Regions from separate parts of the Homo sapiens genome. Here all the other regions are linked to region 2. The links come from fine-mapping of genetic effects on gene expression. A gene starts in region 2. Each other region holds a variant in brackets. All regions are shown on one strand. Distances are from middle to middle.

What was found.
Region 1: its variant is fine-mapped to the expression of MTERF4 in ovary (GTEx, PIP above 0.99).
Region 3: its variant is fine-mapped to the expression of MTERF4 in tibial nerve (GTEx, PIP above 0.99). The same link has a PIP of 0.9 or more in fibroblasts, left ventricle, prefrontal cortex, subcutaneous fat, sun-exposed skin and tibial artery.

What each region holds. Positions count from the first base shown.
Region 1 is chr2:241,203,882-241,212,056 of GRCh38, reverse strand. It overlaps ANO7 (anoctamin 7), which reads right to left. Exons shown (of 25, transcript NM_001370694.2): 10 at 7,102-7,192; 11 at 4,387-4,483; 12 at 2,629-2,772; 13 at 2,422-2,559; 14 at 1,664-1,762; 15 at 1,487-1,589. Among named protein-coding and RNA genes, the nearest start is that of ANO7, 19 kb to the right of the region's middle. The variant C/G (reference allele first, on the strand shown) is at 3,595.
Region 2 is chr2:241,098,156-241,106,326 of GRCh38, reverse strand. MTERF4 (mitochondrial transcription termination factor 4) reads left to right here and starts at 4,040. Exons shown (of 4, transcript NM_182501.4): 1 at 4,040-4,074; 2 at 6,433-6,931. The coding sequence starts at 4,054. It overlaps PASK (PAS domain containing serine/threonine kinase), which reads left to right. Exons shown (of 18, transcript NM_015148.4): 18 at 1-228. RefSeq lists enhancers at 3,714-4,253, 4,254-4,793.
Region 3 is chr2:241,069,974-241,078,148 of GRCh38, reverse strand. It overlaps SNED1 (sushi, nidogen and EGF like domains 1), which reads right to left. Exons shown (of 32, transcript NM_001080437.3): 24 at 7,948-8,175; 25 at 6,429-6,573; 26 at 6,271-6,353; 27 at 4,785-4,883. It also overlaps a transcript of MTERF4 not described here. Among named protein-coding and RNA genes, the nearest start is that of SNED1-AS1, 9.9 kb to the right of the region's middle. RefSeq lists an enhancer at 4,191-4,707. The variant C/T (reference allele first, on the strand shown) is at 4,835.

The sequences.
Region 1 (8,175 bases), 110 kb before region 2:
GTCACCAGCATCCAACTAGGGGCCCCCTCTCCTAGGACCACCTTGCCACACACGGGTGAGGAAAAGGCCATATCATCCAGATATTTAAAAGAAGGAGACAAAGTGTGACATTTCCGAAGTCACCCAAAAACATGTTGATTAACAGGAGTTGGGAAAATTGATAATACCCTATATCCCAACACTAATAATGAATGTGGTGCACACGGGTGAGTGGTCAGGGGATGGGTCAGAGAAACAGAATAGAGGCTCGGTGCCAAGGCTGCGCAGCGGACTGGGCTCCGGTGCAGGTGCCGGAGGCAGGAGCATCAAAGGCTGAAGGTTACAGGAGGGAAAGAGGGAGGCTCAACACCCCACAGCAACCCCACAGTTGCAGAAACAAATGGGTGGCTCCCCTCAGAGCCCTACCCTTGGCCATCCAGAACCAGGAACCTCTCCCTGAGACACCTGCCACCTGCAAAGGTCTTTCCCTGACACCCACCTTCCCCTGGCCACCCACCAGGAGGCACTTCCTCCTCAGCACTTAAGCCCTCTCCCATTCTCTGTAGCTGTGCAGGCAGCCAGTTCTGTCCCCTCTCCTAGAACCTGGGCTCCAGGGTGGGGCTGCCAGCTTTTGTTCAAGACTATTCACCCCCAGGGCTAGAGCAGGGCTAGTGAGAGGCAGCAGCTTATGGAATGAATAGGTTGGTCGTAAGTGTTTGTCCTCAGGAAATGAGACAGAGAAAAAGACCGATGGGAGAGGAAGGGGGAGGGAAGAACTGAGAGGTGGCTGCCCAGCCCAGCAGCCGATACCCCACACCACCCAACAGAGGCTCAGCGGCCCTATCCTAGAGGGACATCTCCCACCTGGGGGACCTTGCAGCCTGGAGGGGGGCCCTGTGGAGGGGTGAGAACTCTTTGGGTGCTGGAGTGCCCCCAGGGTCTTTTATCTCCAGGAAGGCCCTGCTCACTGCTCTTTTAAGGGGGCCTCTGGGGAGGCTCAGACAACTCCAATCTGTACCACATTTAGAAATAGGGAGCACTGGCTTCCTAACCCAGGGATTGTTTGTGTCCCACCTGGGGTGCCAAAAACAAAAAATAAGAGAAAGAAAACCAGGTGCTGTGGCTCATGCCTGTAATCCCAGCACTTTGAGAGGCCTAGGCAGGAGGATCCCTTGAGGCCAGGAGCTCGAGACCAGCCTGAGCCACACAGTGAGACCCCTGTCTCTATCAAAAAAAAAAAAAATTTCAGCTGGGCACAGTGGTCCAGGTACTGAGGAGGCTGAGGCAGGAGGATCCCTTGAGCCTGGGAGGTCAAGGCTACAGTGAGCCATGATCGTGCCAGTGCACTCCAGCTTGGGCAACAGAGTGAGATCCTGTCTCAAAAGAAAAAAGAAGAAAGAAATAGAAATGAGGGCCATGTGTGTCAGTGAGTGAGAAAGTCACGTTCTGGCTGGCGGCCGGCAGGGTGGGCCCCTGGTCAGTGCCTGGCCGGCCTCAGCCCACTCACCCCATCGTGTCAGGACGTGGGCCAGGGATACATAGATCTTGGAGAGGATGAGGATGAAGACGAGGTTCACTACAGACCCCGTGAGGCTGGCGATGCGAGAGGCCTAACGGGAGACAGGCCGTCAGAGCCGGATGAGGGGCCGCTCAGGGCCCCCCGAGGCAGGCAGCAGAGGCTCACCCAGGCTGCGAGAAGGGTGTTGCCCGACCTGGACACCACGATGGCCATGATGGCACGGTACAGGATGATAGACACGAGGCACATGACCACCACGGCCACCTGCGGGGGCAGGGAGGCCCGTGAGACCCTTCACGGTGTCTTGGGCACCCCAGCACCCTCAGGCCATGGCCCCCGACAGCTCTTCTAGTCCACTGCTGGCCCCAGCACTGCCACCTCTAGGAAGGCCCCTGCCTCCAGCCCCGGCTGTGCTCCCAGGCTATGTCCTTCCTGATGAGTTGCTCAGGCAGAGGTGGGGTGGGGTTAGAGTTAGAGGCTGGGCCACATCTGGGTGTCAAGGCAGCCACTGTGAGTGTTGGAGAGCCATCCCATCCCAGGAATTGGGGATTCCTGACATCTTGGCAGGGGAGTGAGAGGTCCTATTAGGAAGCCCCTTTGGCTGGAAGGCAAGACAGGGTGCAGTGAATGGCCCTGCTGGGGTGCCCGCCTCTCTTTTCCTTGAAACCAACCCCCTTGCTTGAAAAATGCCCCATGCCCGCACCCACGGGGAGACCCTCCCAGGCCCTCCGTATGACTCACACCTGCTCTCAGCCGGGACCCCACGGCCGAGCCCGGGCACATGGGGGCCTCTCTGCGGGGAGTGAGGGTTCTGTGCCCAGAGGAGGCATCTGGCCACGGCACCAAGGTGAGATGGGGGACAAAACCACCCCACATGGTGCAGGAGGATGGAGGCGTGAGCGGAGGGCAGGGGGACCGCATACCATCACCACGATCACCACAGAGCCGGCCAGCATGCGGCGCGCGCGGCTCCTCTCAGGGAAGTAGGGCTCGTCCTCACCCGTGATGGGGTTCGGGGCTGTCATGGGGGCTGAGGCGGCAAACTGGGGCCGAGGCCTCTCCTGGAAGGGAGCCGGTGCTCAGTGGCGGCCCTCGCCGGGTGTGACCGTGGTCCAGCGGGGGTGGCTCACCTCAGTGTCCTCGTAGTCAGAGCAGTCCCAGCGGTAGGCCAGCGTGGCGCTCTTCCGCTTCCAGTACTCCAGCAGCAGCACGGCCCACAGTGCCATGAACAAGCTGAAGAACACGGTGCCGCCGTGGTCGAACAGCCGGCCGGCCTGTGGCAGGGAGCGGGGGCGTCCAGACTTGCTTGGGACTGGAGGCCCCTTGTTCCTTCCAGTGTTCCTTCCTCCTGGAATGGGAGTGTGCATCCCACACACATCCCCCGACTGTGTATTTTTTGTTTGTTTGCTTGAGACGGAGTCTGGCTCTGTCACCCAGGCTGGAGTGCAGTGGCGCGATCTCGGCTCACTGCACGCTTCGCCTCCCGGGTTCACGCCATTCTCCTGCCTCAGCCTCCCAAGTAGCTGGGACTACAGGCGCCCGCCACCACGCCCGGCTAAATTTTTGTATTTTTAGTAGAGACGAGGTTTCACCGTGTTAGCCAGGATGGTCTCGATCTTCTGACCTTGTGATCCACCCGCCTTGGCCTCCCAAAGTGCTGGGATTACAGGCGTGAGCCACCGTGCCCAGCCCCCTGACTGTGTTTTGGAAGCACAGACCCACAGAGGGAGAGGAATTTTGCCTCAGGACGGCTCACACCCAGGTCTCACCCACACCTGACTTTGAGGATGCGATTTGGGACTTTCTGAGCTGATATTTTCATGAGGTTTTGGACCTAGAGTTAATGCTGTAAGAGGTTGAGACTTTGGAGGATGCTGGGATGAGGTGAGTGTATTTTGCACGTGGGATGGACATGAAGTTTTGGAACCAGAGGATGACCTGTAGTGAGTTGAATTCTGGCCCCCAAAAGATATGTTCGTTGGGAACCTCAGAATGTAATCTTATTTGAATAAGGGCCTTTGTAGATGTAAGGTAAGGATCTCCAGATGAGAGTACTCTGGACAAACCCTTACAAGAGGGGAGAAGAGGAACCAGCA[C/G]GCAGACACAGAAGGGAAGGCCAGGTGGAGATGGAAGCAGAGATTGGAATGAGGCGGCCACAAGCCAGGGAGGACCAAGGACTGCCAGCAGCACCAGAAACCAGGAGAGAGGCCTGGGGCTGAGTCCCCAGAAGTGGCCAAGCCTGCCAACAGCTTGATTCTGGACTCTGGCCCCGGGCCTGTGAGAATAAGCTTCTGCTGTTTTAAGTCCCCATTTGTGGTCCTAGGAAACATCCAAGTGGATTCCCAGAAGTGAGGTCAAACGGCGTCTGGCCCACCAGTAGTGCCAAGGGCTCTGGGTCCAGTGCATGTGGGGTACAAGCGAGGCCCTGAGGCCCCTGGGAAGGTGGACAGACCCAGGAAGCATGCCAGGCGGGAGGGGGGACAGTGGGGCTCAGAGACTGCAGGAGCCTCCCGCCCAGGTCTTGTAAGTTGGGAATTCTGCTCAAAACCTTTGGTTTTGCCTGTGCCCTGGGGTCTCCAGGGTTTGTCCGCCTTGGAGCCAAGGGCCAGGTGCCCCCAGAGTGCCAGAGCTAGAGTCCTGGTGTGGGGTGTCCTCAAGTGGGAAGCACTAACATGGGCCACTCTGCCAAGTGCTGGGAGGTGTGTGCCGGGTGTAACCCCAGTTCCAGGCAAGAGAACAAAGGTTAAGGAGCTCATGGAGCGTTCTGCCTTTAGCTGGTGACAAGCAGGACAGGGGCTGGTGCAGGCAGAGTCAGGACCAGGACAAGGGGAGCTGCCCTCCTCATCCCCGACTCTCAAATCCCTTACCCCACCCACCTCTTCTCGTACCTGGGCCAGGGCACAGGCGCTGGAGAGCAGCCAGAAAGGGCAGTCGAGGCAAAGTGGGCACATCTCGAAGCTGTCCTTGCTGCCACACAGTTCCTGCCTGCAAGGCATGGAGCGGAGGGGTGGGAGCTAATGGGGGAGGGGGGCTGCTTGCTCCTCCCAGCCAGGCGCCTCCCTTGTCCTCTCTCTCCCTTGTCCTCTCTGTCCACCACTGCCTTTGCCAGGCCCAGCATTTCTTAAAAAAAATAGTTGTTTTAAAATATATGCCATGACAATGTCTGAGTTAAGTTTCTGAATTTCAGTTCCATGATAAACTAAAACACAAGCCCATTTATTAATATTATAAGAAAGCTTACATTATTATAATAAACAAGAGTGCCAATAAAATTAGCATGGGAGCACTCCTGCCCATCTGTCAGCCTTGGAACACTCCTGTCCACCTGTGTCAGCCTGGGAGCACTCCTGTCCACCTGTCAGACTGGGAGCACTCCTGACCACCTGTGTCAGCCTGGGAGCACTCCTGTCCACCTGTCAGCCTGGGAGCACTCCTGTCCACCTGTCAGACTGGGAGCACTCCTGTCTACCTGTGTCAGCCTGGGAGCACTCCTGTCCACCTGTCAGCCTGGGAGCACTCCTGTCCACCTGTGTCAGCCTGGGAGCACTCCTGCCCACCTGTGTCAGGCTGGGAGCATTCCTGCCCACCTGTCAGCCTGGGAGCACTCCTGTCCACCTGTCAGACTGGGAGCACTCCTGTCCACTTGTGTCAACCTGGGAGCACTCCTGTCCACCTGTCAGCCTTGGAGCACTCCTGTCCACCTGTGTCAGGCTGGGAGCACTCCTGCCCACCTGTGTCAGGCTGGGAGCACTCCTGTCCACCTGTGTCAGCCTGGGAGCACTCCTGTCCACCTGTCAGGCTGGGAGCACTCCTGTCCACCTATGTCAGCCTGGGAGCACTCCTGTCCACCTGTGTCAGCCTGGTAGCACTCCTGCCCACCTGTGTCTGGCTGGGAGCACTCCTGCCCACCTGTCAGCCTGGGAGCACTCCTGTCCACCTGTCAGCCTGGGAGCACTCCTGTCCACCTGTCAGACTGGGAGCACTCCTGTCCACCTGTCAGCCTGGGAGCACTCCTGTCCACTTGTCAGACTGGGAACACTCCTGTCCACCTGTGTCAGCCTTGGAGCACTCCTGTCCACCTGTGTCAGGCTGGGAGCACTCCTGCCCACCTGTGTCAGGCTGGGAGCACTCCTGTCCACCTGTGTCAGCCTGGGAGCACTCCTGTCCACCTGTCAGACTGGGAGCACTCCTGACCACCTGTGTCAGCCTGGGAGCACTCCTGTCCACCTGTCAGCCTGGGAGCACTCCTGTCCACCTGTCAGACTGGGAGCACTCCTGTCTACCTGTGTCAGCCTGGGAGCACTCCTGTCCACCTGTCAGCCTGGGAGCACTCCTGTCCACCTGTGTCAGCCTGGGAGCACTCCTGCCCACCTGTGTCAGGCTGGGAGCATTCCTGCCCAGCTGTCAGCCTGGGAGCACTCCTGTCCACCTGTCAGACTGGGAGCACTCCTGTCCACTTGTGTCAACCTGGGAGCACTCCTGTCCACCTGTCAGCCTTGGAGCACTCCTGTCCACCTGTGTCAGGCTGGGAGCACTCCTGCCCACCTGTGTCAGGCTGGGAGCACTCCTGTCCACCTGTGTCAGCCTGGGAGCACTCCTGTCCACCTGTCAGGCTGGGAGCACTCCTGTCCACCTATGTCAGCCTGGGAGCACTCCTGTCCACCTGTGTCAGCCTGGTAGCACTCCTGCCCACCTGTGTCAGGCTGGGAGCACTCCTGCCCACCTGTCAGCCTGGGAGCACTCCTGTCCACCTGTCAGACTGGGAGCACTCCTGTCCACCTGTCAGACTGGGAGCACTCCTGTCCACCTGTCAGCCTGGGAGCACTCCTGTCCACTTGTCAGACTGGGAACACTCCTGTCCACCTGTGTCAGCCTTGGAGCACTCCTGTCCACCTGTGTCAGGCTGGGAGCACTCCTGCCCACCTGTGTCAGGCTGGGAGCACTCCTGTCCACCTGTGTCAGCCTGGGAGCACTCCTGTCCACCTGTCAGACTGGGAGCACTCCTGTCCACCTGTGTCAGCCTTGGAGCACTCCTGTCCACCTGTCAGACTGGGAGCACTCCTGTCCACCTGTGTCAGCCTTGGAGCACTCTTATCCACCTGTGTCAGCCTGAGAGCACACCTGTCTACCTGTTTCAGCCTGAGAGCAGTCCTAGCTACCTGTCAGCCTGGGAGCACTCCTGTCCACCTATCAGCCTGGGAGCACTCCTGACCACCTGTCAGCCTGGGAGCACTCCTATCCACCGGTGCCAGCCTGGGAGCACTCCTGACTACCTGTCAGCCTGGGAGCGCCCCGTCTGCCTGTCAGTCTGGGAGTGCTCCTGACCACCTGTCAGTTTGGGAGCACTCCTGTCCACCTGTCAGCCTGGGAGCACTCCTGTCCACCTGTCAGCCTGGGAGCACTCCTGTCCACCTGCCAGCCTTTCAGCCATGTCCACAAGGCCCTCTGTGACACTCCTGAAGACAGGCATGTGCTCACCTCACACCTCAATCACCTCAAGCACCAGCTGTCTGCACAGGACCTAGCACCTAGGGGTCCCCCCGCCCCACACCCATCTGGAGGCCCAGCACCAGGCCCCAGAGCTGCGGAGAGGGAACACTCACGTGGGTATGTCTGAGAACACCAGGAAGCAGCCCACCAGGAACACCAGTGTGCCCACCACTGCCGCTGGCAGGAGCCAGCCTGTGTAAAACCCTGTAGAGAGGATGGCAGGGGTCCACCATCAGGAACCCAGGCTTGGGGGCCCCAGGTAGGGGTCTGCACAGCCATGCTTGTCCCCTAGGGACCACCCTCAGCCCAGCTTGGGGGCTGGGGCCCTATGTGAGGAGGCCAAGAGGTACACAGCTCTCCCTGGCAGCTCTGGCACGGCCCACCCTCCTGGGCCTCTGCCCTAGACTCTGGACACCCCTACCACATTGACCCCAACACCAGTGCTGCTGGGGCTCCAGCCCACCAGGCTCTCCACCTCTGGATGCCTTCTCCTCAGCCAGCTCACTCCAACCAACCTGCCCGGGACGGACAGAGAAGTCCCTCTACATCCTGCCCACCACAGAGCTGTGGGCCCACCCGTGTTCCAGCCCCAGGGAAACCACGAGTCATTCCGGGTACCTCCCTCCCCACCACCCAACCCCCACCCTGGCCCCTGCCTCATCTGACCACAGCCGCAATCCCTCAGTTACCCCAGGCCCTCAGCATGTACCCCCACTGCCTCCCATAGGGCTAGTCCAGTCCCAGGCCTGGTGTCCTGTCTCCTGCCTGACTCTCTGCTGGCCAAAGTGACTGCTGTGAAACGCAAGTCTGCCTGGAGCCCAGATCCAGCCCTGGCCCTGCTTGCCCCCAGAAGCCCCCAGCCTGGCCGTGCTGTCCCAGGGTTGCTGCTCCAGGTCCTGAGATGGCCGGGTGAGTCCTGGCACACAGGAGCTGTCCCTCTGCCCCGATGCTGTGCCCCGGCTGCCCTTCCATGCCTGCCGGCCCCGCCCGCTGCCCTGGCTGGCTCTATTGTCTGGGTCCACGGTGGGGCTGTGTGTGCGGATGAGAAAGGGCTTTGGAAGTTCTGGGGCACAGAATGAAGGGGTTGGGTCTGACCCAGGATGGGGAAGGGAGGGTGCCAAGAGCTGAGTGGGGTGAGGGCAGCCAGGACCCAGGAGGAACAGCTCTGGGGTTGCCTGGGGCAGATG
Region 2 (8,171 bases):
TTTATATTATTAAAGGGCTTTTAATTTGTGAACTTCTGAAGGCATGAGTGTTTTCTCTTTCTACTTTTGTATATGTGCATGTTTTGTTTCCTCTGACTTGGTATATGCTCATCTGAGTGACGGATATGTGAAATTTGTAGAACTGGTTAGTCAAATGGCCAGACTATTTCATTAATTTATTTCCTCAAATGCTTTTCAAATTAAAGCACCTTTGTTAGTAAACAGTTATCCTGACTTGGATGTTGTGAACTGTTCCCGTGTGCTAAGTGTGAGAAATACCTGGTTTCCTCATTTTTCCATGTGTGCACCCCACTTGCCACAGTTGGAGAGAAGTCTAGCCTTGGCCATTCTGGGGTTCCTTTTACAAGCAGGCCCTGCCAGGGGTGGGCCTAGGGCTCTGAAGCTTGCTCCATCTGGTAAGACGGGGGAGGGTGGCTTCCTCAGGGACCTCCCTTCTGTCTGTAGCAAGACTCTGCTGTCAAACACGTGGCTGGCTCACTGCCAGCAGTCCCCAAATATCCCATGGCCAGCCAGCTCCCACCTCTGTCCACATGAGGGGCTTCCTGGCCCAGCCCCCACCTCTGGTCTGTGTGAGGGGCTCCAGCCCTGTATTCCTCCGAGCTGCTCAGGTTCCAGGGTGTTTGTCAGATACTCAACTGGCTGCTTCCCTCCCTTAGACTCCAGTCCATCCCCCTCAGACAGACTTGGCTAGGTCAAGTACTTAGGATTGTTTTATTTCATGTCTGTGTTAGAGAGGAGGGAATAGCTAGAGGTGAGAGCAGAACCTTTCATTTTTTTCCCCTGCTGAGACAGTAGGAAAAAAACCAAAAACCTAAACCCCTACCCTTTTCCCACATGTCATCACTTGCAGACGGTTTTTCCACATTCTGAGACTCCTGCCCAGAACCCTCTGGAAGCTGCCTGGGAGCCAGGCTGCCTCCTGCGTGGTTCTGAGCTATTTCTAGTGGTTATTTAGGAGGCACTCAACTGTTTTGGGATGATCAGAGTTAATTTTAGTCCCATCTAGTAGGATATGGGCTATTGCCATCCCTTTCTTCAGAAAGTGCTGCCTGAGCCTCGCTGCCACCACAAGTGACTGATGGAGTTGGTGGGGGAGGACCCTCCTCTATCAGGGACATTCAAGGTACAAGGGTTTTACAGGTGTGTATTAAAGTCAGTGATGTTCACTCTTCAGAATTCAAAGAGTTTTCTGATGTTTTAAGAACCCCTACCTTGTAGTGTTTATGGTGCTTATAACACAGAGGATGTTATAGAATGGTGTTTGTTTGTTTGTTTATTTATTTAGAGACAGAGTCTTATACTGTCGCCTGGGCTGGAGTGCAATGGTGCGATCTCAGCTCACTGCAACCTCCGCCTCCCAGGTTCAAGCAATTCTGCCTCAGCCTCCCAAGTAGCTGGGATTACAGGTGCCCACCACCACGCCTGGCTAAATTTTTGTATTTTTAGTAGAGACGAGGTTTCACTATGTTGGCCAGGCTGGTCTCAAACTCCTGACCTCATGATCCGCCCGCCTCGGCCTCCCAAAATGTTGGGATTACAGGCATGAGCCACTGCGTTCGGCCACAATGGTGTTTGCAGACAGGTGTTTAATGGGTTGAGAATGCATAGTCTGAGCTTTCTAAGAACTGTTACTTCTTTATAAGAAAAAATAATTAAAGCTCATCTGACTTCATGGCAGTGGAAGGTCTGGTATTTTGCAAACGTTCTTTGCAGAAAGAACCCAGAGAGGAAAGTTCTGAGGCTGAGGCTGACAATTTTTCCACTCCATTTTTTTTTTTTTTTTTAAGATGGAATCTTGCTCTGTCACCCAGGCTGGAGTGCAATGGTGCAATCTCGGCTCACTGCAACCTCCGTTCCCTGGGTTCAAGCAATTCTCCTGCCTCAGCCTCCCGAGTAGCTGGGATTACAAGTGTGCGTTATCACGTTACCTGGCTAATTTTTGTATTTTTAGTAGAGGCAGGGTTTCACTATATTGGCCAGGCTGGTCTCGAACTCCTGACCTCAGGTGATCCACCCATCTCAGCCTCTCAAAGTGCTGGGATTACAAGCATGAGCCACCGTGCCCAACCCACTGCATATTTTTAAAGTATGGTTCGAGAGAGCAAAGTTTTCACACAAGACTGAAGGTGATGTCAAATTTTTTTTTTTTTTTTTTGAGAAGTACTTTCGCTTTTGTTGCCCAGGCTGCAGTACAATGGCGTGATCTTGGCTCACTGCAACCTCCGCCTCCCAGGTTCAAGTGATTCTCCTGCCTCAGCCTCCTGAGTAGCTGACACTACAGGTGCCCACCACCATGCCTGGCTAATTTTTGTATTTTTAGTAGAGATGGGGTTTCACCATGTTTTCCAGGCTGGTCTCAAACCCCTGACCTCAGGTGATCTGCCCACCTCGGCCTCCCAAAGTGCTGGGATTACAGGCGTGAGCCACCACACCCGGGCTCATGTCAATTTTTCATAGTAATCCCCATGTCCCAGCTGTCATTTTATTTCTAGAGCTAGACAAACTGTTCAGGTTCCTTGATTCTTTCCAGGGAGTTGGGGTGGCTCATGGGATTTTCTTAGGCTTTTGGTGTAGCATTAACACAATTTATTGTGAGATGTTGACAGTTGAGTATTTTGAGAAGAAAATTACATTATAAAAAACAACAAAGGCAACCAATTTTTTTTTTCCTTTTGTTTTTTGAGACAAGGTCTTGCTCTGTTACGCAGGCTGGAGTGCAGTGGTGCAATCATGGCTCACTGCAGCCTCAACCTCCTGGACTCAAGTGATCCTCCCACTTCAGGCTCCTGAGTAGCTGGGACTACAGGTGCACGCCACTACTCCCGGCTAATTTTTTATTTTTTGTAGAGACAGGATTTTCCTATGTTGCTCAGGTTGGTCTTGAACTCCTGAGCCCAGGCAATCCCCCCCACCTCAGCCTCTCACAGTGCTGGGATTACAGGCGTGGGCCACTGCACTCTGCCAAAGCAACCAATTCTTTAGTTTCTACACGGATTAGAACCTTCCTTTTCTTTGACATAATCCTTTTGTCAAAAGACAGTTTTACATAAATTGTTTGGCACCCCACTCCATGCCTGGCGCAAAGCAGATATGTAAATGTGTGCCCATGCAAGAATCAAATCCTTTATGTCAGTCCAGAATGAAGTAGATAAAACAAGAAATGCTTATAAATTAAGGCTTTGGTGGCAGGATTTAGGCAGCTGAGAAAGCACACCTTTTTATTCTTCACAAGCATCACCTTGTGAAAGATGCCTACGCTCTTAGGTCGAGAGAGGAAATTTAAGAATGAATACACATTGGGCTAAAACTTTACTATATTTCATCCTAAGAGGGAACCAGACCTCGAAGTTGGGAAGGCTCTTGCTTATAAAGGGAAATGTGCCGTAATTCCTGTCATTTTACTTGGGTCTTTTAAAAACGGCAAATTCTCATCTTCCACTGGCTGAGAGTAAAAAGAAAGAAAAGCGGTAAAGACTTCTTTTTGTGCGTAGGTGGCCCCGGTGTTCACGCTGAATACAGATTTTTACACAATAAAATCTTAAATATCTCTACATGGAACGGAATCCATTTTTCCTGCCTCGGGAAGGATTTCTGCGCTCTCGGGTGAAGTTCCCGAAGCAAGGAACCAGTTCCCCTCTACCTGTACTCTTGAGAGGAATTCTCAGGTCATCTGAAACACAAGTATGGGCCAGGACGACCCATTCGTTCACGCGGCCCAGAGCTCTGCGAAACGGGACACGGCAGTGCAACGGGAACAACCGGACACCGAGGCCCCCGAAGGCTGAGGCCGCGGCAGAGGCGGCGGCACGGTGACGGGCGCGACTCCGGCCTTCCGGCTTTCTAAGGGGCGGCCCCGGGACACCTGAGCCCCGCGGGGCCGTGAACGCTCAGCACAGCTCCGGGCCGGAATCACGATCCACCACACCGCGCTGGCGCTGGGAACGGCGTCGGTGACGGACCGGGGGCCGGAAGTGAAGGACGGGGGAGGACCGCTGCTTCCGGCGCCGTAACTGCTGCCATCTTCTCCGCGCTATGGCTGCGTTCGGCCGTCAGGTAAGCTCGAGCTGGGCGCGCGGGCTTCTCCGGGTCGCAGGCGGGCGGGCAGCGACGCAGAGGAACCGCGGCCGCCGAGTGTTTCACGGCCAGGTCGTGGAGCCCTCCCGGAGGTCCGTGCACGCTGACCTGGTTTTGGCATCCTGGACCCGTGGCTCTGCTCAATTATTGTGGGATATAGAGTTGACATTTTTTTTTTTTGAGACAAAGTCTCGCTCTGTCTCCAGGCTGGAGTGCAATGGCGCGATCTCGGCTCACTGCAACCTCCGCCTCCCGGGTTCAAGCAATTCTACTGCTTCAGCCTCCCAAGTAGCTGGGATTACAGGCGCCCGCCACCATGCCTGGCTAATTTTTGTATTTTTAGTAGAGACGGGGTTTCACCGTGTTGGCCAGTCTGGTCTGTAACTTCTGGCCTCAGGTGATCCACCCGCCTCGAACTCCCAAAGTGCTGGGATTACAGGCGTGAGCCACCGCGCCCGGCCTGAGTTGACTGTTGAACAAGAGTTTGAACTTCACAAGGAAGATAACATGTACTTTTCATTAAGAGGAAGCGGAATCAGCATAGAGGTCTTTAGGCTTGAGCCCAGTTCCACGGGCCGCGCCCGCTGACCCCAGCGACTGCCAGGTGTTCCTGGCGGAGGGAGCATCTGGACAGGGGAGGCTGGAGAGCAGCCAGAGCTTGGGCTTGGCAGGGTGGCCCCAGGGCGACAATCGATGACGCTGGAGAAGGGGTTGGGACCGATGTGAAGGTTTTAGAGCAGGGGTTCCCCAACCCCCGGTACCGTCCCTTGCCTATTAGGAACCAGGCTGCACAGCAGGAGGTGAGCGGCAAGTGAGCCAGCCAGACTGTATTTACAGCCGCTCCCTTCGCTGGCATTACCGCCTGAGCTCCGCCTCCTGTCAGACCAGCCGCCTTAGATTCTCACTGGAGCGCGAACCCTATTGTGAACTGCGCCTTTGAGGGGTCCAGGTTGCGCTCCTTATGAGAATCTGATGCCCGATGATCTGTCACTGTTTCCCATCAACCCCAGATGGCACCTCCTGGTTGTAGGAAAACAAGCTCAGGGCTCCCAGTGATTCTACATTATGGTGAGTTGTATAATTATTTCATCTTATATTACAACGTGAAAATAACAGAAATAAAGTGCACAACAAATGTAATATGCTTGAATCATCCTGAAACCCCTCACCAGTCTGTGGAAAAATTGTCTTCCATGAAGCCAGTCCCTGGTGCCAAAAACGTTGAAGACTGCTGGCTTAGAGTGCCTGGATGATTTGTGCATAGTTTGTTAAGCACCAGCCTGAACCACTGAAGACTTTTGAGGTCAACTGGAATTGTGTATGCAAGTTGACTAATTACTGTGACCCTTGAACAACACAGGGGTTAGGGGCACCAGACCGCCCCCACACCAGTTGAAAATCAGTGTATAACGTTTGACTCCTCCAAAACTCAACTACTAATAGCCTACTCATGACTGGAAGCCTTACCGACAACATAAACAGTTAACACATATCTTGTATATATATATATTGCATTCTGTATTCTTAAAGTAAGCTAGAGAAAAGAAAACGTTATTCAGAAAATCATAAGGGCAAAACCCCGTCTCTACAAAAAATACAAAAATTAGCAGGGTGTAGTGTGCACCTGTAGTCCCAGCTACTCAGAAGGCTGAGGTGGGAGGATTACCTCAGCCTGGGGAAGTCAAGGCTGCAGTGAGCCATGATTGCACCACTGCACTCCAGCCTGGGCAACAGAGTGAGACCCCCGTCTCAAAAAACAAAAAGAAAATCCTAAGAGAAAATGTATTTACTATTCATTAAGAGGAAGTAGATCCTCATAAGGTCTTTAGGCTGAAGAGGAGGTGAAGGAGAGTTTGGTCTTGGTGTCTCAAGGGTGGCAGAGGCGGAAGAAAATCCACATATAAGTGGATCCAAGCAGTTCAAACCCTTGTTGTTCAAGGGCCAACTCTGTATCCCACAAGATTCTTCTCGTGGAATGAATTTAAGAACATGAATCTGGAAAGTAGTCTGAGGTCCAGACTTTTCTGGCACACATGACCAGGTGGCCTAGAAATAGTTTTTCCCTCTTCCTCCATGTCCCTGCTCCCATCCTTAAAGCTGCAAAAGCTAACAATATTGTACCTGCTTGACTCCCATCTCTGTGGCCTTGAAATACCCTGTTCTTTGTGAGCTTCCTTCTCTGTAGGCTTAAGTTCAGATAGGATTTTGCAGATTGCTTATAAAAATTGTATGTTTGTGTGGAACCAAGGCAGTAAGTACTCTGGCTCAGAAGTCTTATGGTGTCCATTACACTGGAATAGTGAGGAATTAATTGTCTTTTGGTCCTGTGTCTTACAGGTCCTTGATTGGCACCGCCTGATCCCCCTCACCTGGGCCTGTATGGCTAGGCAGACTCCTCATCTTGGAGAACAGAGAAGGACGACAGCTTCTTTGTTGCGCAAACTGACTACAGCCTCCAATGGAGGGGTCATTGAGGAGTTATCTTGTGTTAGATCCAATAACTATGTGCAGGAACCAGAGTGCAGGAGGAATCTTGTTCAGTGCCTCCTTGAGAAGCAGGGGACTCCTGTGGTACAAGGGTCCTTGGAGCTAGAGAGGGTCATGAGTTCCCTCCTGGACATGGGTTTCAGCAATGCCCATATTAATGAATTGCTCAGTGTACGGCGAGGTGCCAGTCTTCAACAGTTGCTGGACATCATTTCAGAATTTATTCTCTTGGGTCTGAATCCAGAGCCTGTGTGTGTGGTCTTGAAGAAAAGTCCCCAGTTATTGAAACTGCCTATTATGCAAATGAGGAAGCGCTCCAGTTACCTGCAAAAGCTTGGGCTTGGAGAAGGTACAAGAAGTTGCAGATTTTGGCTGGGTGCGGTGGCTCATGCCTGTAATCCCAGATCTTTGGGAGGCCGAGGCAGGCAGATCACTTGAGGTCAGGGGTTCAAGATCAGCCTGGCCAACATGGTGAAACCCTGACTCAACTAAAAATAGAAAAATTAGCTGGGCTTGGTGGCACGCACCTGTAATTCCAGCTACTTGGGAGGCTGAGGCATGAAAATCGCTTGAACCCAGGAGGCGGAGGTTGCAGTGAGCTGAGATGGCGCCACTGCACTCCAGCCTGGGTGACAGCAAGGCTGTCTCAAAAAAAAAAAAAAAGATTTTATATAGTGTGACAGGAGCCAGAGGTGGGGAAAGAGCAGCCTAAGGTGAGATGGATTAGGGGAGGTTTCTGAGTATGTCAGTGTTCCTGGAGAGGACTGTATAATTTGGCTTGGAGGTGAGGAATAGGAGTGGCTTTCTGTGCAGAATACATTTTGAGAGGGAAGGAGGAGGAGTTAAGACTAGAAGAAAAAATTGAGTGCCAGGGCAGAGACTCTTGTCTGCCTTGTTCACCGTGGGATCTTCAGCACCTAGTGCAGTGGTGGGCATATGGTATGTGTTCAGTGGGTTGATGCTGATAATGTGATGTTGATAAATATGTGTACATATAGCATTTGATGTTTAAATCAACATGAAATGGTCTTAGTGCTCTGTCTCTGTGATGTGATGTCAAACCAACATCTCTTGTAAAGACTTAGATTCTAGTCGAGTGTTTAGATTTACTCTGGAACATGAGAGATCTGGCCAGGTTCCTGGGATACTCGTGGAGTGGCCTTCCCTTCTATTTATCCCCCACTCCTGCCCCCAACAATATTCACATCTCAAGGATGCTCAAAGTTCCTTGAATCTCTTTAAGGGCCTTCTGGAGGAGTTGGGGGTCTCCAAGGACCCTTACCCACTTTGACCAGAGGAGTTCCACTATTATTTCTTTGCATTATTGACTCTTCCTGGTAAGATGTTTTTTGAGGCAGTGGTAGAAGGTTTAGGATCCACCATTTCACAGCATCTCTACAGGCCTCCTTCTCTAGAAGATAAGAAAAAGGTAGCCTTGTATATTTTTCTTAACAGATTCTTACAGTGTAATCTAAAAGTCTAAATATATTATGTGTGGTGGTGATTAATTAGCAAACTCAGCACAGCCTTAAGAAATGAAGATAAACCTAAACTGAAATTCCTCACATATTAAGATAATCACTAACTCA
Region 3 (8,175 bases), 28 kb after region 2:
CCTCCCAAAGTGCTGGGATTACAGGCGTGAGCCACCGCGCCCGGCCACTTTTCCTTTCGTTAGTTGATTGACACTTTGGTGGTTTCTACTTTCTGGCTTTTGTGCTGTGCTGCTATAAATATTTGTGTACAGGACCTCATGTGGACATAGGTTTTCATTTCTCTTGGGTATATACCTAGGAGTGCAATTACTGGGTCATGCGGTAACTATTGGTTTAATCCTTTAAGGAACTGCCAGACTGTTTTCCAGAGCAGCTGTACCACTTTACAGTCCCACCAGCAGCGTAGAGGGTTCTGATCTCTCCACGTCCTCACCAATGCTTATTATTATCTGACTTTTTAATTCCCGCCATCCTAGTGGTTTTGATGTGCATTTCCCTGCTGACTAATGATGTCAAGGATCTTTTCGGTGTGATTACTGGCCATTTGCATATCTTCCTTGCAGAAATGTCTTTTTAGGTCCTTTGCCCCTGTCTGAATTGGGTTGTCTTTTTATTGTTTAGTTGTCAGAGCTCTTTATTTTAGATATGGGTCTCTGATCAGGTATGATTTGCCCATGTCTGAACTGGGTTGTTTGTCTTTTTATTGTTCAGTTGTCAGAGCTCTTTATTTTAGACGCGGGTCTCTGATCAGGTATGATTTGCATGTTTCCTCCACTCCACAGGTTGTCATGTCACTTCCTTGATGGCATCCTTTGAGGCACAGAAGTTTTAAGTTTTGATGAAGAGTAGTTTATATATAGATTTTTGTTGTTGCTCATACTTTTATTGTTGAGCCTAAGGACCCTCATGATCGAAGGTCATGAAGATTTACTCCTATGTTTTCTTCTAAGAGTTTTGGTTTTAGCTCCTAACATTTAGGTTGTTGGTCAATTTGTGGTAATTTGTGTTATGAGGTATATGGTACGAGGGCTCCGGCCTCATTCTTTTTGCATGTGGATATCCAGCTGTCCCAGCACCATTTGCTGAGACTATTCTTTCCACATTGAATGGTTTCAGCCCCCTTGTAGAAGTCAGTTGGCCATTGACGTGTGGTTTATTTCCAGACTCTCAATTCTTTTTTTTTTTTTTTGAGACGGAGTCTCGCTCTGTCGCCCAGGCTGGAGTGCAGTGGCGCAATCTCAGCTCACTGCAAGCTCCACCTCCCGGGTTCACGCCATTCTCCTGCCTCAGCCTCCGGAGTAGCTGGGACCACAGGCGCCCGCCACCATGCCCAGCTAATTTTTTGTATTTTTAGTAGAGACGGGGTTTCACCATGGTCTCGATCTCCTGACCTGGTGATCCGCCCGCCTCGGCCTCCCAAAGTGCTGGGATTACAGGCCTGAGCCACTGCGCCCGGCCCTGGACTCTCAGTTCTTTTCCACGGATTACAGGCGTGAGCCCCCGCGCCCGGCCCTGGACTCTCAGTTCTTTTCCACTGATCTAAATGCCTATCCTTAACCCATTACCACACCAACAGGTTTCACCATGTTGGCCAGGCTAGTCTTGAACTCCTTCCTGGCCTCAAGTGATTCACCTGCCTAGGCCTCCCAAAGTGCTGGGATTACAGGTGTGAGCAGGTCTGAGTTTTAAAAGGCAAACAATTAATCTTTAAAAGGATATGATTTTATATATATATAGAAAACCCCAAAGAATGTATGACAAGAATAGGAGAGTTTGGCAAGATGGTTGGCTATAAGGTCAGTATGCAAAGGTCAAATAAATATCTATACTCCAGTAATAAATAATCAGGAAAAGTAACTTTTAAAGTATATACTAGTATCAAACTATATAATAGTATCAAACTATAAAATACCTAGGAATAAGTCTGAATTCCATATAAAACTTTACTGAAAGATATTAAATAAGTCATAATGTCATATATGGAGAGACATCCCATGTCCATGGATATAGACTTACTATCCTAAAGATGTCAATTTTCACAAAAATGGTCAATGGATTGAATGCACACCCAGTCATCATTATCTCAAAGGCCTTTTCCATAGAGTGTGACTAGATTTGAAGGTGTATATGTGGAAGAAAAAAGGCCAAGGGTAGCAATGATACTTCTGAAGATGAAGAGTAAAGGAAAGGAACTTTGCCAATCAGTTCCAGGACTTACAAAGTTAGAGTGAACACAGGGCAGTATTGGCACAGATGTATCAAATTGACGCCGCCAGAATTCTACTTTTATATGTGGAATTTTGATACTGACAGTGGGGGAAAAAGGGACTTTTTAGCATGAAGAGATGAAAAATCCAGTTTACCCATATGCATAAAAAATGAAATTGTAGCCCAACTTCTCACACACACACAGTCTAACAGATTAATGACCTACAGGTCAAAAGCAAAACTTTACATCTTTGTGAAAAAAATATACATGAATAACTTTCTAACTTTGGTGTGGGGAAGGATATTTTTTAAAGAAGGCTCCCAACTTGTTAACCACTAATGCTTGATAAATTTGATTATGAACTTTTCTCTATTAGGAAGTACCACCAAGAACAGGGAAGGACAAGCCAGAGGCTGGAGGAAGATACCTGCAGAACACAGACCTGACAAAGGATCAGTATCAAAACATATAAGAATTTTGACAAATGAATAAAAAGAGTACAAATAACCCAACATAAAGTCAAAAGGCGTGATCAGGCATTTCACAGAAGCAAACACCTTTGGTGGATGCCCATGAGGAGAGGCGCAGTCACATCAGTGCCCAGGAGATGCAAACCCAGATCCCAGGGGTGTGCATCCCACCCGTTCTGCCTGTAGGATCTGCAAACCCGGCAAAACCTAGTTCTAGAGAGACTGGATTCACTGCATGTCTTCATCACTGCTGGAGGGAGCGCAGACTGCTATCGCCTCTTAGAAAATGACTTAGTTCTCATGTAATTTGGGCATTCACACATCCTCATCCTAGATCCAGCTTTTCCACTCCCGCACACGTACTGGAAAACCTGTACAGGAACATCCACTGCAGCACTGCTCATACCAAACACAACCTACATGTTCTCTGCACAGAGAGGGGAGAAGAGCCGGTCAGTTCACTCAGTGGACTCTGTGCTCAATAGTAGGTGTGAATAAGCCGCAGCCGCCCAGACCGCATGGGCCAACCTCAGTCCGAGAATGCGGAGTGAAAACACAGGTCTAACGATCACACATGGCAAGATAATTATCTTGCAAAGAAAACTCACTTATTGTTCTGCCATACATATATGTACCATAGAATCACTCCCCGCACCTTCCACTCTGAAAAAACAAAGGAATTCTAGGCACAAAGTTCAGGATCATGGTTAACTGAGGGGAGAGAACAGGGAGTATGATGGCAAGATAGAAGGTATCGTTCACATCCAAGTTTATAGGTTGGGTTCTTGATTTAGTCATTATTCAAAGGCTAATAACTAAATAAAAGGTAGCTAGCGTGAGAGTGCAACATGAACCAAAGATCATGACTGGCTTTGCGCATCGAGGGGCCATTAAAGAGTCTACTTTTCATGTTATCACTTAAAATCATTTTGCACCCACCAGGGCATGAGCATCTCGTGCTGGCAAACACCACATGACCGTGGTGACCTCAGGGCCAGCCCGGGGGTCATCTTGAATCTCTCCTGCTGAAGAGACCCAGGAGGGTAACACACGCCCCTCCAATCTCTGAGTTCTAGGAAATGAACACCTGGTATTTAAAGGGGCTGACATAATGCAAATCATCTGATGAAATGTTTGTTTTAGTTCACTTAAAGATCAACACGAGAGTCTTCACTCTGAATGGGCCACACCTGAATTAAGAGAATCCTTCACTCTCTGCGTCGGATGCACAAACCAGTCCTCCTGGTGCTCACAGGGGCTAGCAGCAAGTCCAGACCTTGTATGGTGAGGGCGGGGGGGGGATGGTGAACTTAGGGTTCAGCGAAACCGCCACTTGCAAACACACCCCACCGCAGGTGCCCTTGATGTGTACACATGTCCTTGAGAAGCTGGGGGCAAGGCCTTGCGGGTGAGACCACGCTCAGCAGCTCACACCTTTACCAAGTACTAGGACTTCTTTGGGGTTGGGTTGAGGGGTGATCCCAATCTGAGTCTATGGTATGACTCAGGGGAGAACAGGTCACCGGGTGCTAGGAGAGCTGTCCATAGAGGACACAGCCCCAAAGGATTAGAACCAGGAGAAAGGTAGAGTCTGACTCAGGGTGAGGAACACACATGTATTGGTGCTGCCCGAAGGGGAACTGCCTCGTGAGCGTCTGGGAACTCTTACTGCAGGTGCTCAGCAGATGCTTGGTGCCCTGCAGGGACGTGCTGGCCTCGATCCTCACGAGGCAGAGCCCCGGACTAGGAGACAGTTCAGGTCCTGCATAACCTGAGTGTCCACAGGGCCCAGCTAGTCCTCAAGCTGGGGCTCGCCCAGTGGCTGCTCCCTCTGCTTCTCCCATCCTGACTCCGCCTGCTCCTCTTTGGAGAAGTGAGGGGTGAGGGGCCCAGAGGCAGGGGCTGGGGTGGGCTCTGCTGCATGTGGAGGCGAAGGAGGAGAGGGGAGGGGAGGCAGCATCAAAGCCAGTCTCTCTAGCTCAGACTCTGGGTGGTTTGGGTGGGTCCTGCCCCCTGGCCTGTTCCCGTCTGTGGGGTCCCACTGCTTGGGTGGTGTAGCTTCACCCCATCTTCCCACACCGGGGTGCCTGGTGCTCAGCCTCCCCTCAGGTAGGCTCTGTGCCTCCTGATTCCTCACCGTGGGTGGTCCCTCCTGCCTGCAGCCTCTAAGGCCCCTGAGAGCAGTCAGTCAGTCCCAAAGTCCCCACCAGCGCTGCTGACTCACTTCCGATGTCCTTGCTGCCGTGTTCAGGGAGCTGGAGGGCCAGGCTGACC[C/T]GCTTGGGGGCTTCCTCCATGTTCTCGAGCTGCGCCGAGGCTGTGGGTTCTAGGAGAAGCCAGGCGGTGACCACACGGCGCAGCTGCTTTGCACCCGGGATGGTCCTGGGGCCACCCTTTTGAGTGCTTCTATATCTCAGGGAGCACGGATGTCCCTGGTGGGGACCAGGCTCCCTGCGTGGCCCCAGCACCTGTCGGCCCCAGAGCTGCCTCCCCTGAAGGGCTGGCCTCACCCTCCTGCTGACCCTCTGGAGGGGCTCGGCCTTCCCCTTGCAGGGCCCCCTCAGAGCTGCTTCAGGGACAGCCACCACTGATCATGCTGAGAGGCCCCATCCTCACGGCTGATGCGGTTGCTTTCTTCTTAGGGTCAAATTCTGCATTCCTCTCCTTCCACCCCTGCTTCTTGGAGGCTGTGGCACCCCCTGCTCTTTCTGAGCTGCCCTCAGTCTGTACTGACCTTCCTCATGCCCTCGCCCCCAACTGCATCACTTCTTATGCAGGGATCTCAACCGCACCCTCGGGCACTTCATATCCGCTTCCATAGCTGCAAGTACAACGGGCCCCCCTCTGTACTCCAGATCTCACCTGCCCACCACTGGGCATCCCGGGCAGCTGCCTGCCCTCTCCTCAGACACCTTGCTGGGGGCTCTCTCCCCTGCTCACCGTGCGGCAGGGACCCCAGGGCTCTGGTCCCTGCTTGCCACTCTCCTTGCTGCATTTCCCTCCCTCCTCTGCCTGAGGAGTTTTTGCTCAGAGCGTGTTCATTAAACTGGTGACTAGGCTCTGTTGGGGAGTTCCATGAGGATGACCACCTGGCCTTCCAGGTGAGAGGCAAGGGCCAGAGAGGTCCCCTCTGGGGCAGGGTCGCGCCTGCCTCACTCCTGCCAACATGTCTCAGGGCTTCTGTGTCAGAATCACAGGCAGATTCCCAGAGCGGCACTCACCCAGTAAACCCGGTGGGAAGGGCCCAAGGCACCTGGGCCCATCAGCCTTGCTGCCACCGGGAAGATCTTGCCAGGACAGTGGCGGAGGATTTGCCGGACCACACTCGGAGTGGCGGGTTAGACCCTCATGGCCTCCTGCCCATGGTTTACTAAAACAAAGCTCAGAGCCCTACTTTGGCAAATAAAGCTGCTGTAATGTCTCAGACCTGCTTCTAAAATGTTTATCTTCTCTTGCGTGCCCTACCAGCAGCCTGCGCCTCCAGCCCACACACTGACGTGAGGCCCTCACGAGCTGCCCCTCCTGCCATGGAGGTGCATGCTGCCGGCGGCCCACGAGCCCCGCGCCTTGTGCACAGTCGGGGTGGGGGTCACTGGCTGGAGACTGCGCTGGCGGTGGGGGTGGGCTCATCATGTAGGGGACAGGACCTGGTGAGAGTGGCAGTGAGGACGAGGGTGGGCCACCAAGGTGGGTGGGGAGGCCCTGGCACTCACGTGATCTCACGGTGGCTGCTTTGCTGGGTGAGCCACCGAACCTGGCGCTCACTCTTCCTCTGCCGTCCACAAGCTCCGAGAACCTGCAGAGAGGGTGGGAGGGTCACCACAGTCCGAGCGCCGCCTCGGGCGATGGGGCCGATGGGTGGGGCATGTACCTGGGGGGCTGGGTGGGGGTCTCGGGGGCGCTGTGGTCATTGAGCAGGCGCAGCTCCGGCAGGCGCGCCGGGGGCGGTCTGTTCTTGAGCACCCGAGGGTGGTGTCCTCCCTGGTGCCAGCGTCTGTCAGCGCCATCCCTGGGGGCTGCAGAGCAGGCAGGAGGAAGGGGCTGGTCTGGGGCTGCCCTCTGCTCCTGTCCCTGCCCCTGTGGCATGGGTGGTGCCCCTCACACTCAGCCGTGCTTGGAGAAGGGAAGGGGGGCATGTGCGTGGGCCGTGGTCATCCAAGGTGCTTGTGGCTTCCCCAGATGCCCTGGGTTCCCTTCCAGCCCACCCGCCGCATCCCTTCTGAGGAGGAGCCATGCGCAGCCATGACACAGGCGTGCACTGGCCTGGGAGTCATGAGGCAGGGCTGAGTCTAGGCCCCTGCCCGTCACTCAAGTTCTCAAGGGGCTGGGCACTCGGGCTCGGACTCAGGTCCCAGGCTGCCCTGGAGACACAGTGCTTCTCCCCAGTGGCCTCCTGATGGGACGCTTCAGCTGGGAGTCCCCACCCCAGCATGTGCCCTGAGAGTGAGGGTGCATCTGTCACCCTAACAGCGTCCTTCAGCCTCCCAGGCTGGGCCCTCCTTCCCCTTCCCTCTCCCTCTCACTCTGACGCCGGCTCACAGAGGTCCCAGCCTGCCCCTTCTGCCTGGCTGGTGGGCTTGGCCCCAAGCTGGTGGGGGTGGCAGGGTTGGGTCTGAGAACTCGGCAAGCTTATGCACTTCGTGTCCCCAGCACAGCCTCACGGGTTGGGGAGGAGCCTGGGGTCAGAGCCCTCTCTTCCCTGGGGAGCCGCGCACTGCTCTGCTCTGTCCCGCCGTGGCCTCTCCTCCCTGCTTGTCTCCGTCTCTTTCTTCTCTCCCTGTTCTGCTCCTGCATTTTCCCACTGCTCCTTCTGTGAACTTGGAAGACCTAAGTGGGGCGTTCGGGACCCTGGTGGAGCCTGGAAGGGCCACCCCTGCACTTGGGAGCAGACCTGAGCCCTTCGGAGCATCTGTCCCCACTCCGAGCGGCTTCTGCCCTGTGCCTCTGCTCCCCAGCATTCCTGCCTGCCTTGCAGGCCCCTGCCTGTGGCCTCCTGGCCCTTTGTCTGTCTGTGTCCAGTGGCTCTTCGTGGGTCAGGCCTGGGCTGCAATGCAGGCCACTTCCGGGGGCTTCCTCCTCGCTGCCACCCTCGGCACCCGTTTTCAGGTGATGCTCGGCCTGTCTGGGATCTACGGGAGGGTCCGGCACAAACTGAGGCTCAATGTGCTTATTATTCCAGTTGTTGGTGCCACCTGCCCATGAGTCCTTCCTTTCCTTGTGGGTTTGAAAAGCCTCCACTTTCATACACAGACTCCTCCCCTGCTAACACGGTCCTGTTTCTAGGCTGTCTGCCTGGCATCCCAGGCCCCTGCAGGGCCAGGTCAGTCCTGAACAGGGTGGAGGGCTGGCAAACACTGGCCCCGCCCACGCGCAGGGCCCACGGCACTCACAGGTGATGATGTAGAGGTGGGCGGGCTCGCTGTGCTGCGGCCCGAGCTCCGTGCTCTGCACTGCTATCACAGAGAGCTGGTACCGCCGTCCCGGCAGCAGGTCGCGCACCGTGTAGGACGCCAGCTTCCCGTTGGGGACATAGCGGCTCTTGGTGCTCTGGCTGGTGGTCACATTGATGACATAAGCCTCCAGCAAGCTGCCTGGAGTCGGGGCATCCCAGACCACGT